3 linked regions of the Homo sapiens genome follow. The protein of the gene in region 2 interacts with the protein of the main gene of each other region in a biochemical or structural test. Each region holds a gene or a part of one and is shown on either strand. Other genes may lie near its edges.

The links. Proteins that work in one complex are often made in the same cells at the same time.
Region 1: the proteins of UBE2B (region 2) and RNF20 form a complex in vitro, tested with the Homo sapiens proteins (4 studies listed by BioGRID, with this or other methods).
Region 3: the proteins of UBE2B (region 2) and RNF40 form a complex in vitro, tested with the Homo sapiens proteins (3 studies listed by BioGRID).

What each region holds. Positions count from the first base shown.
Region 1 is NC_000009.12:101,550,834-101,557,866, forward strand, and holds part of RNF20 (E3 ubiquitin-protein ligase BRE1A), read left to right. Parts: intron 1-850; coding exon 851-986; intron 987-1,307; coding exon 1,308-1,429; intron 1,430-1,549; coding exon 1,550-1,920; intron 1,921-3,154; coding exon 3,155-3,272; intron 3,273-3,860; coding exon 3,861-4,010; intron 4,011-6,550; coding exon 6,551-6,763; intron 6,764-7,033. UniProt on the Homo sapiens protein: Component of the RNF20/40 E3 ubiquitin-protein ligase complex that mediates monoubiquitination of 'Lys-120' of histone H2B (H2BK120ub1).
Region 2 is NC_000005.10:134,388,554-134,392,626, forward strand, and holds the end of UBE2B (ubiquitin-conjugating enzyme E2 B), read left to right. Parts: intron 1-1,671; coding exon 1,672-1,800; 3' UTR 1,801-3,555; downstream 3,556-4,073. UniProt on the Homo sapiens protein: E2 ubiquitin-conjugating enzyme that accepts ubiquitin from the ubiquitin-activating enzyme E1 and transfers it to a E3 ubiquitin-protein ligase. In vitro catalyzes 'Lys-11'-, as well as 'Lys-48'- and 'Lys-63'-linked polyubiquitination.
Region 3 is NC_000016.10:30,757,761-30,765,335, forward strand, and holds the start of RNF40 (E3 ubiquitin-protein ligase BRE1B), read left to right. Parts: upstream 1-4,561; 5' UTR 4,562-4,600; exon of another isoform or gene 4,601-4,638; intron 4,639-4,714; 5' UTR 4,715-4,785; coding exon 4,786-4,917; intron 4,918-5,357; coding exon 5,358-5,525; intron 5,526-5,657; coding exon 5,658-5,799; intron 5,800-6,418; coding exon 6,419-6,625; intron 6,626-7,177; coding exon 7,178-7,299; intron 7,300-7,420; coding exon 7,421-7,567; intron 7,568-7,575. Other genes in the region: CFAP119 (cilia- and flagella-associated protein 119), read right to left, coding at 1,252-1,341, 1,418-1,487, 1,582-1,964, 2,524-2,693, 2,846-2,908, 3,438-3,469, 3,785-3,988.

The DNA.
Region 1 (7,033 bases), on a different chromosome or scaffold from region 2:
ATTTTACAATTTTACTCCCTCATGTGCAATTAATCTCTCATTCATTCAGCTGTCATTCATAGAGTGGCAGTAGGTCTTTACTCTGGTAGGTACTGGGCATATAAAGATGAGATGACAAAATTCCTGCCCTCACAGATCTTGTAGTCTGCAGTAATGGGAGAATAGTATCCATTAGAATGCAATGTGGTACAATGGCAGCATAGCCAAAAGATGTGATACATGAGAAAAGAGTGTCTGATTTGACTGTGGAAGTTTCCTGATTCCACTTAAAAAAGTAAGGTATAAATATTAAGGATAAATTATTGGTAGTTGAAAGTAGGAGAAGAAGAATTCCCGGCATGAGAACAGCACATATAAAGGTATGAGAGAGCATGAGAAATAGTTTAATATGGCTAGAGCTTACGTGTATGTGAGAAAATAGTGGGTAGAAGCTGCAAAATTACTTACATTTCTTAAACAAAAAGCATATAATGGCACCAGTAGATGATTTTTTTAAAAGATAGAAACTTTTATTCATATGTTCATTTCTGTATCTTCCATAGTTTTTAAGGTAATGGTTATAATAGTTGGTCTTTTAATATATGCCTGACAAATGAATTGAATACTATTTTACATATGTTTATATACTGTTTTATAGTTTAGTTCTCCAACTAAATTCTAATATTCTCAGAATTGGTGGCCATTTTCTTTATTTTTCAGTATCCTGTCAGTTTCCAAATTAGTCTTTTGTAGATATCTGGTTTCATTACGTATAGATTGAACTGGAAATTTTCAGAGTAATCCATAGAATATGATGATATTTCTACATTTTAATAAGAATTTTTTTATTGGTTCCTTTATCTGTGTGTAGCGAGATGAGGTTAGTCTTCATAAGAAGCTGAGGACTGAAGTAATTCAGCTAGAAGATACATTGGCCCAGGTCCGCAAGGAGTATGAAATGCTGAGGATAGAATTTGAGCAGACCCTTGCTGCCAATGAACAAGCAGGTATAATGATTCTCACTCCATGCTGTAGTTTGCTCTTAATACCTTCCTTGAAAGATACAACACAGACCCCAGGGTTTGTTAATGCTGACTTCAACTCAGAAGTCATAAGTACCTTAAATCCTATAATTCATTTTGGTTCACAGCCTGGATGTTTGTTTTTTAACTCAAGTTGACCAGTTTTGTTTTCATCTTCTGAGAAGGAATCTTTTATTTGGTAATTCTCCCTATTTCTCAGTGCCTCCTGATGTGTTCTGTTCTTTCTCTCCTTGTGCCTTTGCCCTTACCACGGTTCCTCATAACATTGTTGTTCCTGTATTTAAGGCCCTATAAACAGGGAGATGCGCCACCTCATCAGTAGCCTCCAGAATCACAATCACCAGCTGAAAGGGGAGGTCCTGAGATATAAGCGGAAATTGAGAGAAGCCCAGTCTGACCTGAACAAGGTAACCAGAGGGAATAGAATAAATATCATTTGCTATTAATGTCGTAAAGCTGCTTTTGAATGAGGTCGGCAATGTGGTTATCATAAGAGATGTGCATCTTTCTTTTCTTTATTCTCCCAGACACGCCTGCGTAGTGGTAGTGCCCTCCTGCAGTCCCAGTCTAGTACTGAGGACCCGAAGGATGAGCCTGCGGAGCTAAAACCAGATTCTGAGGACTTATCCTCCCAGTCCTCAGCTTCAAAGGCATCTCAGGAGGATGCCAATGAAATCAAGTCTAAACGGGATGAAGAAGAACGAGAACGAGAAAGGAGGGAGAAGGAGAGGGAACGAGAAAGAGAACGGGAGAAGGAGAAGGAGAGAGAACGAGAGAAGCAGAAGCTAAAAGAGTCAGAAAAAGAGAGAGATTCTGCTAAGGATAAAGAGAAAGGCAAACATGATGATGGACGGAAAAAGGAAGCAGAAATTATCAAACAATTGAAGATTGAACTCAAGTAAGAACCACATTTAGAGTAACAGTTTCGACTGAAAAGCTAAGATTAAGACATCATGCATGAAATGTTTGGTTGATGGCATGGCTTGTCTGATCGTTTTAATGTTTTAGATTGTACAATTAATTTGGTTTCAAGTCGTGTTCAAGTGCACAGCCAAAATGGCTTGCATGGCTATTTAGTACTTTGGTTCAGTGATCGAGTATCAGCAAACCGATGATGGTAGCCTTATTTTTATGAATCCAAATTAAGGAAAAGGATGTCATGATTGAGGTAATACTTCTGAGAATTATTGGGAATTAACTACTGCTCTTCACTGGATTTGAGCAGATTGCTGGCGTTAATTGTAATTTAAATGATATTAAGTGGAGTATTTATATATCACTGTAACTTGAACAATATCTGATCTATTTGCCTGAGAGTTAACTGGTTTGTGAATATGCCATATCTTTCTTAGGAGATTTACTCCTATACACATTGACACACTAAGATAGACCTTTAACTTGTTGAATTTTTCTGTGTCATAACCTTATGCATTGGCCCTTCTCCTGTATAACCAATAACTTCTCTGGCAGAACGGCTTACTTCTTGCTCCTTACTTTCTATGGTTGATCCTTTGTTGATGTTTGGACTTGAGAGACCACTGTGCTCAAAATGCTTGAACTCTTTTGGTATATAAAAGTATAGTTAAGAGGTTTAGTAATTTAATAAGAGGTGAAGTTTTAGTCTTTGGCTGATGGTTAATCACTCAGCTGTCAAATCTAGGATTAACAGTATATCTCAGACTTTCAAATTTTTCCCTTTTATTTCTCCCTCTTGAACTCTTTAAGGCAATTTTTTTTTTTTCTGGTGTGGTATCAGAATCATCTGAGTGACTTGTTTAAATCACTTGTTTAAATTTTTGAACTCCATCCCCAGACCTACTGAATCTCAGTTACCCAGGGTTGGGGGCCACAGAAATTTGCCTATATAACAAGTACACAAATGTCTGTTTTATAACTTTGTTAGAGGACTTTGAAGGGAGAAATGATTCATTTTTATACAGCTTACTTTTCTGTACTTTCTAAGCATATCCAAAAGTCTTTTGATAGTCTGTGCAAAATTTTATCTTTTAGGTGTGATATGAAATGTAAAATGAAACTGTTTTAAAATATTCTGCTCAATCAAAATTCCCTTGCTCTGATGACCTTTATTTTCTTATTACATTGTTCCCCTCCCTCTACTACGCCTGTCATAGGAAGGCACAGGAGAGCCAAAAGGAGATGAAACTATTGCTGGATATGTACCGTTCTGCCCCAAAGGAACAGAGAGACAAAGTTCAGCTGATGGCAGCTGAGAAGAAGTCTAAGGCAGAGGTATTCTAGTCTGCTATTACCTGTCCTTCTGGTTAAAATCTTCATTTGTGGGATTTTCCTTTATACTTGCCAACGATATAATTTCTTTCTTTATCTTTAAAATAAGTGTTTAAGTGCAACATTTTCTGCCTTTTCAAAGACCATCTGAAGTAGAGATTTTAAAACTCTCCATAGGATGGTAAAATATATCTGAATTACTGGGGTTATGAGTAGGCTTTCCAAAGTATGTATTCCTTGTTTTTCCTATGTAATTCATTGCTACAGGGATAATCTTTTTCATTACTTTTGGGAGGAATGTCTTATGCTCTTAAAATTTTGAGGCCTAAAAAAAAGGATGGGAACCACTATTCTAAAGAAAGTTACCTGTGCACTTCTCAAAAGTGTTGCTTATAGAAGCATGTCATAGTAGAATGGAGTGATGTTAAAACAGATGGTGTTATGTAATGTTTTAGTATATTATGTACCTTGTTCTATAATTCTGTAAAGACTCTTTTGGTATTATGAACCTTCTATCTTTGCACAGTATTAATTGATTTTTGAAAATGTGTTATAACTTTTTATTTTTGTGCAATTCCTTTCCTCTTATAGTTGGAAGATCTAAGGCAAAGACTCAAGGATCTGGAAGATAAAGAGAAGAAAGAGAACAAGAAAATGGCTGATGAGGATGCCTTGAGGAAGATCCGGGCAGTGGAGGAGCAGATAGAATACCTACAGAAGAAGCTAGCCATGGCCAAGCAGGTGGACTCACTTTCTTTATTTAATTGACTTTTTGAGTAAATGTTACTTGACAATAAGTTATTGCCAGTGAAATTTGCTTTTTTATTTTGGTCTTTTTTTGATTGTTAATGTGTATTTTTCCTTTTTGTGTGTGTGTTTTAATTCTTACCTTCAAGTCTTTTATCTTTCTGTTATTTTGTTTTGTGTATTTGTGAGGCAAGAAATTTACTTTTATTTAAATGGACATTTATTGAAGATCTAGTCTTTCTCTGCTGTTGTTCAGACAGTTATTGAAGATCTAGTCTTTCTTTGCTGACCTGGAATTAAGGGTTATAGTGAATATAAAATGAAAAATAAGACATAAGATTTTATATACATTATGATTACAAATATATGAAACTAAGAAAACTATGCTTATAAATATATATCATTATATATTTCTATGTAGTACATATACTACACAGAAAAACTATGCTTATAAATATGTGATTTATATATAATAAGGATATAATCTATTAACCAATATAATAACATTGATTAAGCAGTATGTTAACTATGGCTATTTTGGGGTCATAGAACTATAGAGATTGTTCTCCTCCTTATAATGAATATGTATGTATTTTTAAATGCCAGGGAATTTTTATTAAAATTCAATAATAAAGATACTGAAAATGCTTGAAAAAACCATATATGTATTCTCTGTTAGTACACCTTCATTGTTTCTAAGAAATAGCAAAATAACAGTGAGATGGAGTAGGTTTAATGGTAAGTTGATCATGAAGTGCCTTGAAAAGAAGAACTTCATTAGATCCTATACACATTCCTTTTGTTAACAAGTGTAATTTTGGGCTGGGCGCGGTGGCTCATGCCTGTAATCCCAGCACTTTGGGAGGCCGAGGTGGATGGATCACCTGAAGTCGGGAGTTCAAGACCAGCCTGACCAACATGGAGAAACCCCATCACTATTAAAAAAAAAAAAAAACAAAATTAGCTGGGCTTGGTGGCGCATGCCTGTAATCCCAGCTACTTGGGAGGCTGAGGCAGGAGAATTGCTGGAACCCAGGAGTGGAGGTTGCAGTGAGCCGAGATGGCGCCATTGCACTCCAGCCTGGGCAACAAGAGCAAAACTCCATCTCAAAAAAAAAAAAAGTGTAATTTTGACTTTTCTTAAATCTGGTAAATGCCACTTTTTTTTTTCTTCCCTCTCTCTTAAGGTAATTATCAGGAAATTATACTATTATAGGTTCTAGAACAAGTAAAAAGAAAGACACTATGTTCTTGTATACGATGACTATCTTAAAAATGTTCAGTCTTTCTAAGTTTATGTATTAATATAATGTGATCTCATAAAAGTGCTTTTTTTAAGTTTTGCTTTTGTTTATTTTGGTACTAGAAGAACTGGTTTTAAAGTACATGTGGAGAAGTAAACAAGAGTAACAAGAGAAATTGAAAAAGAACAGCACTGGGGTCTCTTCCATATATTAAAACATAAAGTTTCTGTAGATGAAATAGCTTGGGACTACTAGACAGGCTATTAGAACTGAATAGAAACTTGAGAAGTAGTTGAAAGTACACATGATACTTATTATGTGCTAAATACATAGTTTTAAATCAGTGGGGAAAAGAAAAACTGTGACATGTGATGGGACAAAATTAAAAAAAATAATGTTAGAGAAAAGTTAGATACATACTTGAATACACTAGGATGATTTCCAAATGGATCATAGATATGATATTTTAAAAAATGCATCCATCAAAAAGCTAGAAGAAAACCATTAAATTCCTTTATAATTTGGAGTGGAGACCTTTCTATGAATAAAAGGCTAGAAAACATGAACAAAAAATTGATAATTTTGAGTTATTTTTTAAAATGATGCAAAACTTCTACACTGCAAAAAACACTGTTAGCAAAGCCAAAAGATTAAATGACAAAAAGTAAAAAATATTTTTAACTTTTATTACAAAGAAGGCTTATCTGATACAAAAAAAACTCTCCAAAATAGGGAAAAAAACTCAAGAATCCAGTGGAAGAATAGGCAAAAGAAATGAGTTGGTTATGGAAAGAATACAAGTGGTCTTAACCATATGAAAAGATGCTCAGTCTCACTTAAAATGAGATAGATATAAAGTAAAGCTATTATTAGATACCAGTCTTCACCTATCAGATTGTTACAAGGCTTTAGATGTTTGCAACTGCTGGAAATCCTGTAGATCCAGTATTTTAATTGTGGAAAAGCATGAGAAAATGTGAGAGGTTATGATGGAAGTACTCTTAACCAATTGCTGCTTGATCCGTTTGTCTAGATTAAGGTAAATACAATTATTGTCTAATTTAACTGACGTTGAGTACAGATCAACTAATAAGTATCAGACCAACAATTGGTGCCAGTGACTTCAGATAATAGAGCTTCTGTATGCCTAGTGACAAAACACAACTTCTTAAAACTCTGTCACTAAATTAATTTATATCTAAATGAACAGTGGGAAAATTTAGTTTCCTGTGCTCTTCCATTGAAGTTGGAAGATTCTTCTAAAATCAAATCTCTTCCTTCATCCTTTAGGAAGAAGAAGCACTCCTCTCTGAAATGGATGTCACAGGCCAGGCCTTTGAAGACATGCAGGAGCAAAATATCCGTTTGATGCAGCAATTGCGGGAGAAGGATGATGCAAATTTCAAGCTCATGTCAGAGCGTATCAAGTCCAATCAGATCCATAAGTTGCTTAAAGAAGAGAAGGAGGAGCTGGCAGACCAGGTGTTGACTCTGAAGACTCAGGTAATTAGGATGAGTAGAGCTTTCTATTCTGTTGAAATAGGGTGCTTTCTACATGATGATATAAGTAAAAGAATGATTATTGTGGCACATTTTTGTGATTGGAAAAAAATTTGAAAACTAAATGTTCATCATTAGGGTATTGGTAAATAAATTATACATCTCTACTGTTATTCCTACAAAAGAGTACAGTGTACTTGTCAAATATGGATCTGCTAATATGGAAACATGTCTGAAATAAAATCAAGTGACGTGTTTTGTTATCCTTTTTGC
Region 2 (4,073 bases):
CTTGGGATCCAGTCTGCAGTCCCTTTCCTGATTGTGTAAGTTACATGTTCTCACAGGTCAAACCTAATTTGTGTCCATGAAGCATAGCCAAGGGTTGTGGAAAAGAAAAAATGGCTTGGAAAAACCATAGGAACCTAAAGAAACTGCCAAGTGTAGATAAGCATTGAGTATGTTACCCCATCCAAGAAATTCTATTTTAAAAAAAGAAAGGAAAACTAATGTAACCATTTGTCGAAGCAGTCTGGCAGAATATTTCAGAATAGATCTTTGAATGAAAATTTAGGAGGGGTGGAGTGAGGGGTGTTTCGGTTTTGTGGATTTGAGAGGAGCAGAAATAATATGTTGGTTTGTGATGTTCTTTTTAAAGTTTTTTCTCTCACACTTCTTTAATTGTTTTTTTTTTTTTTTTTTTTTTTGAGACAGTGTCTTGCTCTGTTGCCCAGACTGGAGTGCAATGGCACAATCTTGGCTCACCGCAACCTCTGCCTCCCGGGTTCAAGTGATTATCCTGCCTCAGCCTCCTGAGTAGCTAGGACTATAGGCACATGCTACCACGCCTGGCTAAGTTTTTGTATTTTTAGTAGAGATGGGGTTTCACAGTGTTAGCCAGGATGGTCTCCATCTGACCTCATGATCCGCCCGTCTGAGCCTCCGAAAGTGTTGGGATTACAGGCGTGAGCTACTGCACCAGGCCAGTTCTGGTCATCTTACAAGCGTTGTTTTTCAACCTTCCTATCTCATTCTCTTCCTGCTAAATGTATATGTTTTGTTGATTAAAGGAAATAAGACTTATCTCCCAAATTTACTGTCAAGACATTTGCAAAGTAACTGCAGTAATAGAGTTTAACCTTGGAAAATGTTGGTTACTGAGAATTATTGATATCTTAACCAAATTAAGCTGTTTATTTCCTTGGTTTAATGAGAACGTCTCAATATGCTTAAGAATATTCTTTTCTGATTTCTTTCAAATTATAGGTATTTTTTTCTTTTCTTTTTTCTTTTTTTTTTTTTTGAGACGGAATTTCACCCTTGTTGCCCAGGCTGGAGTACAGTGGCGCGATCTCAGCTCACTGCAACCTCTGCCTCCCGGGTTCAAGCAATTCTCCTGCCTCAGCCTTCCGAGTAGCGGATTACGGGCATGCGCCACCACACCCGGCTAATTTTGTATTTTTAGAAATTACGGGGTTTTCTCCATGTTGGTCAGGCTGGTCTCGAACTCCCTACCTCAGGTGATCTGCCCGCCTCGGCCTCCCACAGTGCTGGGATTACAGGCGTGAGCCACCACACCCGACCTCTTTTTCTTTTTTAATAGAAACAGGGTCTCCCTATGTTGCCCAGGCTGGGCTTGAACTGCTGGGCTCAAGGGATCCTCCTGCCTTGGCCTCCCAAAGTGTTAGGATTACAGGCACAAGCCACTGTACCCAGCTGAAATTATAGGTCTTAAGGCAATTGAGAACTTTATTTCAGAAGCTTAAGTTCCTTAGCAGCAGGAAACCCCATAGTATTTATCAAATCATTTCTAAAAGTATTTAGACCCAAAATTATATGACATGTTAATCTCTGAAGTAATTTGTTGTTTTGTATAACTTTTCTGTAATATATTCCATATCTGACCCCTGTTGGTATAAAGAACAACTATGCAAATCTGTTTTTTCTTTTCTTTCCTCCTAGTCTCTGCTGGATGAACCGAATCCTAACAGTCCAGCCAATAGCCAGGCAGCACAGCTTTATCAGGAAAACAAACGAGAATATGAGAAAAGAGTTTCGGCCATTGTTGAACAAAGCTGGAATGATTCATAATAGACAACTGGTCTGTTAATCTTTTTCATCATTGTTGTGTATAATTTACCTCTCATTAGAAAGGCTAACAAATTTTAAGTGCCACAGGTTTTAAGGATTCTGCAGAAAAAAAAGAAAAAAGTCCTTCAGTTTAGAACCTACAAAAGCTTGTGTATCTTGATTAATGTACTTTTTATTGCATGGTGTGAACTAAGTTATTGCTGCATAAATTTGTAATATATCCTGTTTGTATTTTTTTCCAAGTGTATAATGTTGGTGTGGAGTTTTCATGACAGAATATACACATTTTGTAAATCTGTACTTTTTTCAAATATTGAATGCCTTATTTTTGAATTCTTTAGATTTTTAAATTGGAGAAAAGCACTTAAAGTTTTTTATATATGAATATTACATGTAAAGCTGTTAAAATACATAACTTCAGTGCAAGAGACTTTGTCACTTATTTCCTTATGTGTGTAGGAGGGGTTAATAAGTCTCTAGCTCTCCATCTATTGATAGTTTCATTTACAATTTCAAAAGAACATTCTTATATTTTATCAAGGAAGTCTTCAAATTTGATTCTAAATAGCGATTATAATCTCCAACTTTATTTTGAATGTACCTCTATTAGTTTCAATTGAGTAATTCTAGACATAACTGGTTTGACTCTGTCCAACTCTGTATTTAGGCCATTTGTTACAGTTTCTTCATGCATTACTTACTGTTAAAACTGTACCTTTTGCGATTTCACAGTTGGCACTTCTGCCATGAGCAGAGAACTGATGCGACTTGTTTTGCTGCTTGGTAGCACTTTAAAAAATTTTTTGATTAATGAAGAAAGTAAAACCATAAACATTTGCCAAAAATTCATGCCCCAGTATTAGCAATGAATTAGTTGCATTGGTTTGAGAAAGGCACATATTGGAGGGAAATCTTGGTGTAACTTAAATATTTGAAAATTACCTTTAATGCAATGCATATCTGTTTATTCTGGGAAATGTTTTAATGCCAGGGCCTGCTGAGTTGCTTCTTCTTGTGGAGATTTTTTTTTTAATCTCCTGAGTTGTATAAAAGTTGTACTGCATCTTAGTTTACTGGATAAATTTAAAACACAGTATTGTAGAAAGCTAATACAAAACTATCCTATGCCTTCAAATAGTATAGAAAATGGAAAATATACAAGTAAATTCTGTTGAACCACCTGTGTAGTCTCTCTAGTAGTTAAAACAGCTATTTTAGTAACCCCAAGAGTTTCTTCTCATATCCATAAAATTGGATTACAGTATGGCAATATCTACAGCTTCTATTCATTATGCAACGTTTAACATTGATTGGATAAATGCTTATAGGCTGGGCCAGGTGGCTCCCACCTGTAGTCCCAGCACTTTGGGAGGCAAAGGCGGGAGGATCACTTGAGGCCAGGACTTTGAGACCAGCCAGGGCAACATAATAAGACTTTTCTCTACTTTAAATTTTTTAAAAAATTAGTTGGGCATAGTGGCACTTGCCTGTAGTCTCAGCTACTTAGGAGGCTGAGGTGGCAGAATAGCTTATGCCTAGGAGGTTGAGGCTGCAGTGAGCTGTGATTATGCCATTGCACTCCAGCCTGGGTGACAGAGCAATACCCTGTCTTTAAAAATAAAAGCTATTACTTGGCAAATTCTGAGGTAAGTGTATGATCTTAGGGAACTTTGATACAAATGGGAATTCACTCACTGGAATCGTGGCTCCCAAAAAGATGCTTTAATTGTGTGGTGCTTTTATAGTTTAGCTCCAAAACAAACTATAGACATTCACTCCAGTAACTCCTAGATTAAATATACAGTAGCTATGAGGGTCTGCCCTCTTATTTCATTAAATGCTATTTGGTTACTATTTCAACATCCATTTTTATCCTTGACCTGTTTTTGCCTTTCCCAGTTTAAAACAGGAAAATTTCAAGTATTGGTAGATAATTATAAAGAAGTTACATGTTACTTTACAGGGAGGTCAGTGAGTTCTAACTCCAAAATTCAACATATGCATAAAACTCATAGCATCCACATTCCTTTTCGAGAAAATCCTTAAGAAGGTTCAATCTATACATAACTCCTCACTTTTTTCTGCAGCCTTGGAACAGATTCCTATTTCTTTGGTTAAGTACCAGATATAAACCTTCGATTTACAAGGTTGAGTCATACAAAAAGTGTTTACTTTAAACTCTAGGTCAGTTTCATAAATGTATGGTAGGGCAAGAAGCTAGAACTAAAATGTTTATGTTGGTACAAAGTTATATTGATGGATTCATGTTAAAA
Region 3 (7,575 bases), on a different chromosome or scaffold from region 2:
ATAGAGGTAGCAATGTTGTTTCCCTTTAGGAAATGTTAGCAAGCCCTTGTGTGAGAGGTAGTTGGGTAGGGTGGCTATGCTGGACTTTGCAGCTTCAAATTCTGATCCCTACTCAGTAGCTGTGTGACCTTAGGCAGGTTATTTAACCTATCTGTGCCTCAGTTTCCTTGTATGAAATGTGGATAGTGATACCTAGCACATAGGATTGAGGGAGGATTAAATGAGTTAATTTATGTAAAATGCTTAGAGCAGGGCATGCACTGCACACCTATTGCCAAGTATGTGCTGGCTGTTATTGTCATTGGCTTTCTCTTTTTTTTTTTTTTTTTGAGATGGAGTCTTGCTTTATCCCCCAGGCTGGAGTGCAGTGGCAGCGATCTCAGCTCACTGCAAGCTCTGCCTCCCAGGTTCATGCCATTCTCCTGCCTCAGCCTCCCAGTAGCTGGGACTACAGGCACCCGCCACCACGCCCGGCTAACTTTTTGTATTTTTAGTAGAGACGGGGTTTCACAGTGTTAGCCAGGATGGACTCGATCTCCTGACCTCGTGATCCGCCTGCCTCAGCCTCCCAAAGTGCTGGGATTACAGTTGTGAGCCACTGCACCTGGCCTGTTCTTTGTTTTTTTTTAACTCTTAAGTTCTGGGATACGAGCAGAACATGCAGGTTTGCTACGTAGGTATACATGGGCCATGGTGGTTTGCTTTACCCATCAACCCATCATATAGGTTTTAAGCCACCGTCATTGGCTTTCTAATGATCATTTCTCTGGAGCCACTTCAGCTGTGCTTTTTGTTTGTTTGTTTGTTTGTTTTGAGACAGAGTCTTGCTCTGTTGCCCAGGCTGGAGTGCAGTGGCCAGATCTTGGCTCACTGCAGTCTCCACCTCCTGGGTTCATGCAGTTCTCCTGCCTCAGCCTCCTGAGTAGCTGGGACTACAAGCGCGCACCACCATGCCTGGCTATTTTTTGTATTTTAGTAGATAGGGGGTTTCACGGTGTTGCCCAGGCTGGTCGCGAACTCCTGAGCTCAGGCAATCCGCCTGCCTCAGATTGTGCTGGGATTACAGGTGTGAGCCACCACGCCTGGCCTGCAGCTGTGCTTTTATCTGTCATCTTGGACTTCTGCATAAGGGATCATTTAGAGAAAGGACTCTGACTAAAAACAAAAAGTCTGAAGTCCTGATGTCATCCAAACCCTTCATTCTACACCTGCTCAGAGGGACAGGGCAGCCTGCCCTCTCCAGATCCTCACTTGGCTCTGGCTCTGGTGGGGCCACTGTCTCTAGTTCCTCTTTCTGCGGGGTAACTGCCTGCTCCTCCATCTCCTTGCTTTCTTCTTTCTCTGCAAACCAGAAGCAGGAAGAGACTGTGGCCCCAGGCCTGGCCCAGCCCAGCCCTGCCCTGGCACTCTCCCTTACCCGTCTCACTCTCTGGCCACAGTTTGGGTGGCTGTAGCCCCATGTAAGTCAAAGACAGATCCAGCCGCACCTGGGAAGCAAGGCAGAGGGAGGCTGAAAGGAGTGCACCTGTGCTGAGGGGAGGGGCGGTTGAGGGTGGCTCCTCATGGTCCACCACCCCCTACCTGGGGTGTGAAGACGTATTTATAGAGCTTGAAGTGGCGGAAGTAAGTGTTGACCACGTAGTCTTCCAAGGCCAGCAGCTGTTCCTCTTTGAAGAGGTCGATGCTGAAAGGAGGCCGCTGTGGTGGTGACTCGGAATTAGAACCCTGACTACCTTCCGGAGCCCTGGCTTTGCCTCCAAAAGCCCAGCAACAGGAGCAAGGAGAGCCCACTGGGGTCTTCACAAGAAGATAAGGGTGATGAATGTGAGAGAGACTGGGTGAGACCTTGTCTGGGGATGGGTAAAGTTTCCAGAATGTTCCAGGGGAACTGACCCTGACTCCATGGCAAAAAAGGACACTGGTGAAGTAGCGGTAGCACTCCTCCACGTTGCCCAAGGGGGTTGCTGGTAGGGAAAGCAAGATGCAGCAGTGAGGCCCTCTCTGGTATCCATTCATTCACTTCACTCAACAGCTGTTTATGACCATGAGCTTCAGAAGCAGACAGATCTGGGTTTCAGCACTGGCTTGTTTCCTTAACTCATGTAACAAATACTGAATACCCACTATATGCCCACTGTATGGTTTTCGGCACTGAACAAGACAGACAAGGTCCTGCCCTTACGAAGCTTATATTCTAGGGGAATAAACCAAGAAATAGATCATTTCAGCTATTAAACATTCTGAAGCAAGAGCTATTAAACATTCTAAAGCAGGTGTTATTGTGCACTATGCATATATTTGCATATATTATTTCTCAGAACAGTCCTGTAAAATGTGTGCTGTATCCTTAATTTCTAGATAAGGAAGCAGTGGATTGGAAAGCTGATGGCTTGTGTATGATGATGCTACTAATAATGACATATTCCAGGCAGAAATCCCCTGCTTCTGCTTCCCATGGTCACTTGTGCCAGGCCCGGTTCCTCTTCTCCCTGGGGCTCAAACCTGGTAGCTGCCCCCTCTCACCAATACAAGCCTTGTGAAGATCCTGGAGCAGGGCACAAGCCGCTGACGTCTGCTCCAGTGAGAAGCCCTGCTGGCGGCAGAAAATGAGCGCGTGGCAGAAGAGGTCCAGGGTGATGGCGTCCCTCAGGCTCTGCTCAGGACACCCTAGCTCCAGCAGCTCAGCCAGCACCCTTGGGAGGGAGAGAGGAGTGAGTGACAACTGGGCCTCCTTTCATCACCCTACACCCACCACATGCTTTGGAGTCAGCCATTCCTCATGTTTTCCCAACCTGACCCCTCAGCCTTTGCCAAGAGCTCTTCCCACGCCCCCCTCAGTCCCTACTCCCTCATCTCAGCATTGGTGGTCTTCTCCAGCTGGTGCATGGAATGGACGTCCAGGTACTTCCTGTTATAGTAAAAGAAAAAGAGTATTGGTGGCCGTTACCTATCATGACAAGGCTGTGACAGCTAGTGCGTGAGACTGGGAGTTGGCCACCGGCGTGAAGCTGGGCTCTTTTGCCAGCTTGCTGTGTGACTATGCAAATCGTTAACTCTCTGGGCCTAAATGAACTCTTATGAGCCTCTCCATTTCTAAAGCCTAGGGTTAGGAATCTTGAATTCTTTTTTCTGCTCTGCCACTACCTTGTATGACCTTGGTCAAGTACTCCCTGTGGCCCTCAGTGTCCCCCTCTGTACAATACTCCTTAGCGGCCATGAGACTCCATTTACATTCTGTCTTTGGCTCTTTTTTTCTCACACTGCCTCCTCTTTGGACTGGAGAGGCTGGAAAGCCAACTTCCAGTCACCTGGAGTAATTGCATCTCCAGGCCTCAGTCTCATCTGTAAAATGGGGATGCCCTGGCCACAGACAGGACTGTTGGGGAGACAATAAAGAACGCAAATATTCAGTGTAATTTTTGTCTCTTCACACTCACCACATGCAGATCCGGGGTCGGGGCAGCGGCGGCTGCGGAAAGAAAGCGAATTGGGGAAGGCAGCTGCGGTGTCCTGGCCCGTAGCGAATCTCCAGCAGGCCGGAGAAGCCGCTGTAACTTGCCATCTCATCTCAAGGACTAAGGAGAGGCGCGGGCGAGGGAGGGCTTCAGCAGGCCCTAGGTGCTCTACGCGAGCACAGTAACCACCGGGGTCACACACCCCTGCCTCTCCTCGCCCAAGCAGCCCGGGAGACGTCCCGAACGTTAGTAAGCATAATGACAGGTGGCGCCTGCGGGGGAGCCGGTTTATAAATATTCACGAGCAGACCAGACTGTCCCGCCCTCACCGGAAACAAGTTGGCTCCGGGGTCTTCATCCGCTTTCGCCGCCGCCGCCGTCGTCCACTGAGTCCGCACACTCGCACGCGTCCGCGCGGCCGACCCATGCACTGAGCTGCGATCCTTCCCCGCTTCCCGCCGCAGCTCGGAGAGATGTTCAAGCTCCGACTGCACCCTCATTCCCAAAAAGTGGCTGGTCTTGCGGTTGAGCATCTCGCCGCTCTTCCGTGCCGCGAGGCGCCCCGGGCTCCCGCCGCCTAGGTTCCAGGACAGCCAGCGCTCGGTCGGCGGCTACCAAGGCCGGGCCCGTTCGCCTCGCTCCGGCCAATCTACGCGCGGAGAGGCGCGGCGGGGCGAATCCGTGGGGGCGTCTCCCTCCGTCTCAACGGCGACGGTTGCCAAGGGGGCTTGTGAGGGAAGGAAGGCGGAAAGCGCAGGCTCACGCCAGTGGGAGCGAAGAGAACGCGCAGATACGTGAGAAGTTGCGAGTGCCCACCTGGGCGCCCTCTCTTCCAGGTTGCTAATACGAGGGCCGGTGCTGTCCTCCAGGCTGGGAAGTGGGAGCGCGGTGTCAGTTACTATGGGAACTGCCTCTTGGCCAATCACCGAGAGAAAGAGGAGGTGTTTGGGAAGAAGCCAGAGGACCCGAGTGGCGGGACCAAGCGTAACCAATAGAAGCAGAAGATAAAGAAGTTTCCTCACATCCGGGGCTGCCTTTGGCGCCTGCGCCCTGCGCACCGTTGGGGGGGGGGCAGTGGCGTCCAGTGACGCCCAGTGACGTCCGGTGAAATCCAAGATGGCGGCGCTAGGCTGACCCTCCTGCTGGTGAGGGCTCTGGCGCCGGGGGGGACGGGATCCAGCAGGTGTGTGCAGGGTGGAGGGTGTTTGGGGCTGTGGAACACCAGCCGTTCCCACATCTCTGCTCTGTGTCTTCTGCAGGTGACGGAAGTACCGCCTCCTCCCGTTTGACGCCCCTCAGGGGACCCTGCATCGCTCCAGCCGCCGCGGCCATGTCTGGGCCAGGCAACAAACGCGCCGCCGGCGACGGGGGCTCAGGGCCCCCGGAAAAGAAGCTGAGTCGTGAGGAGAAGACCACCACGACTCTTATCGAGCCCATTCGTCTTGGAGGCATCTCTTCCACGGTTCGTGGGCTCTTGCCTTAACCCTCAGAACTTCCCAGAGCCCTCCCTCTGTTCTCTGGCCAAACTGTGCGGAATCTTACACCCACTTCCCCAAGTTTAGCAAGGTCCGCGTTACAGGACCTTGAAAGAAAGGTTAGAAAGAAGCTCAGAACACGACGCCTGTCTTCCCTTTACAGATAGGAAAACAGGTTTCCAGGGGGCGTGTGACTTGTCAAAGACTAAGGATTTACAAGGGGACAGGCAGAAACAACGTGAGCCTCCTCACAACAAAGACACTTTCGCTGTGTGTTGTCTGAGCCTCCTTAGATTCTGTTAGCGGTTAGTGTGGGAATACCTCCATCTCCCATGCATTGCAGATGCTCTGCTCCTCTTTCTCTCTCTGTGATTGGTTTGTGGGCCCTGCTTGACGCTCTCGTCGGCCCCTTTGTTTCCTTTGGTAGGAGGAGATGGACCTGAAGGTACTACAGTTCAAGAACAAGAAACTGGCAGAGCGGCTGGAACAACGGCAGGCTTGTGAAGATGAACTCCGAGAACGAATTGAGAAGTTGGAGAAGCGGCAGGCCACAGATGATGCCACACTCCTCATCGTCAATCGCTACTGGGCCCAGGTGGATACCTTCTGCTTTCAAAGACCAGGCCTTGATTCAGCTGCCAATCCCCAGATTCCCCTGCTAGGAAAGGAGTATCATGTTGGAAAGCACTAAGGGATTCATAACATTTTTGATGTTTTCTCCTTCCAGCTGGATGAAACTGTGGAAGCCCTTCTCCGATGCCATGAGAGCCAGGGGGAGCTGTCTTCAGCGCCTGAGGCACCTGGGACCCAGGAGGGGCCAACATGTGATGGGACTCCTCTCCCAGAGCCGGGGACATCAGAGCTGAGAGGTAGGACCAGAGTGCTGGGATCTGGGGAGCTTAAGTTCTGGGAGAAGTCCTGGGGAGGAGGGGACTTTGGTGTTGGGCCCCTGAATTGCCTATCTTACTACTTCTCACGAAATGGATTTCATGTTTGGGCAGTAAAGTGCAGTGCACAAAAACACAGGCTTTAGACTCTGACTAACTTGGTTTATAGAGCAATTCATGTTTTGACACCCATTTGTTTCAAAACAGTATTATGGTTGAGTATTAAATATGTATTTGACGCTTCCTAGAAATGAGTGTTGCACTTGCTATAAGGGAGGAAATTATAAACATAGTAAGCAGAAAGTACTGGGGCTCCTGAAACGGAATGATTGTGTGTGCATGCATGTGCGTGTGATTCTAATTATATTGGTAAAGTACAGGAAGCTTCCCTGAGGATGTGATACGCAACTCTGTAGCTTTGAGGAAATTACTTTACCTCCCTGAATTTCATTTGTCTCACTTTCAGGATGGAGATAATAGTGCACTATAGGTTGTGTTGATTAAGTGAACCATGAGTATTGAAGGGCTCAGTCTGGAACTTGGTACAGAGTGGTAGTAACTGCTGCTCTTATCCTCATGAGGGTCTGTCCATTCCTTCCAGACCCCTTGCTGATGCAGCTGCGGCCCCCTCTCAGTGAGCCGGCCTTGGCTTTTGTGGTGGCACTGGGTGCCAGCAGCAGTGAGGAGGTGGAGCTGGAGCTGCAAGGCCGAATGGAGTTCTCCAAGGCAGCTGTGTCTCGTGTGGTAGAGGCCTCAGACCGCCTACAGCGCCGGGTGGAGGAACTCTGTCAGCGAGTGTACAGCCGAGGTGGGTTCTTTGTGCCCATACTGAAGGGGTGTCCATCCCCACCTGCATCTTGATGGCACCCCTTCCTGATTCCCCTAATGCCCGAGTCCAAGGGCGGCCAGAATTTCCCAAGGAATAAATCAGCCATGTTCTTGGAAGAGGTAGGTTAGGCTGTAGATGGGGGTTCCAACTTTGATTCCGGGATTGAATGCTAGAGAGATGGGTTGGAGGAGTTGTTGATGCCGGTAGAGGCTCCTGGCCAGAGGCCCCTCTGGAGCACTTGGTGTGGGTTGCGGATCCACAAGGCATAGCTTCAAGGGCTCAGGCCTTGTAGGTTGACAGGCTTCTCCCACCTTAGTTCTGCCACCCTCACCTGGACATGCTGGGAAAGTGGCTCCCCTCTCTGAGCTGGTTTCCTTCTCTGTGCAGTGGGGATAAAGACTCCTGGCTTTGTCATGAGAAATGGGCAAGACAGCTGGTGGATCACACTGGGTATATAGCAGACTCCAGAATGAGTTAGTTGTTTGCCCCATTGCCCTGAGCTGGGCTCTTACCTGGGCCCTGCCTTCCCAGGGGACAGTGAGCCCCTCAGTGAGGCGGCTCAGGCACACACCCGAGAGCTGGGCCGTGAGAACCGGCGACTGCAGGACTTGGCCACTCAGCTGCAGGAGAAACACCACCGCATCTCATTGGAGGTGAGGAGCCGGGGGCTTTGGGGGTGTGATTAGAATCAGGCAGGATTTGGGTTAGATGGGCACTCAGGGACCTCAGGAACCAAGTCCCCCATCCAAGCATCTGCTCCCTCATTGTTCCCAGTACTCCGAGCTCCAGGATAAAGTGACATCGGCAGAGACCAAGGTGCTGGAGATGGAGACAACAGTGGAGGACTTGCAGTGGGACATCGAGAAGCTGCGGAAGCGAGAGCAAAAGCTCAATAAGCACCTGGCAGAGGCCTTAGAGCAGGTGGGGCA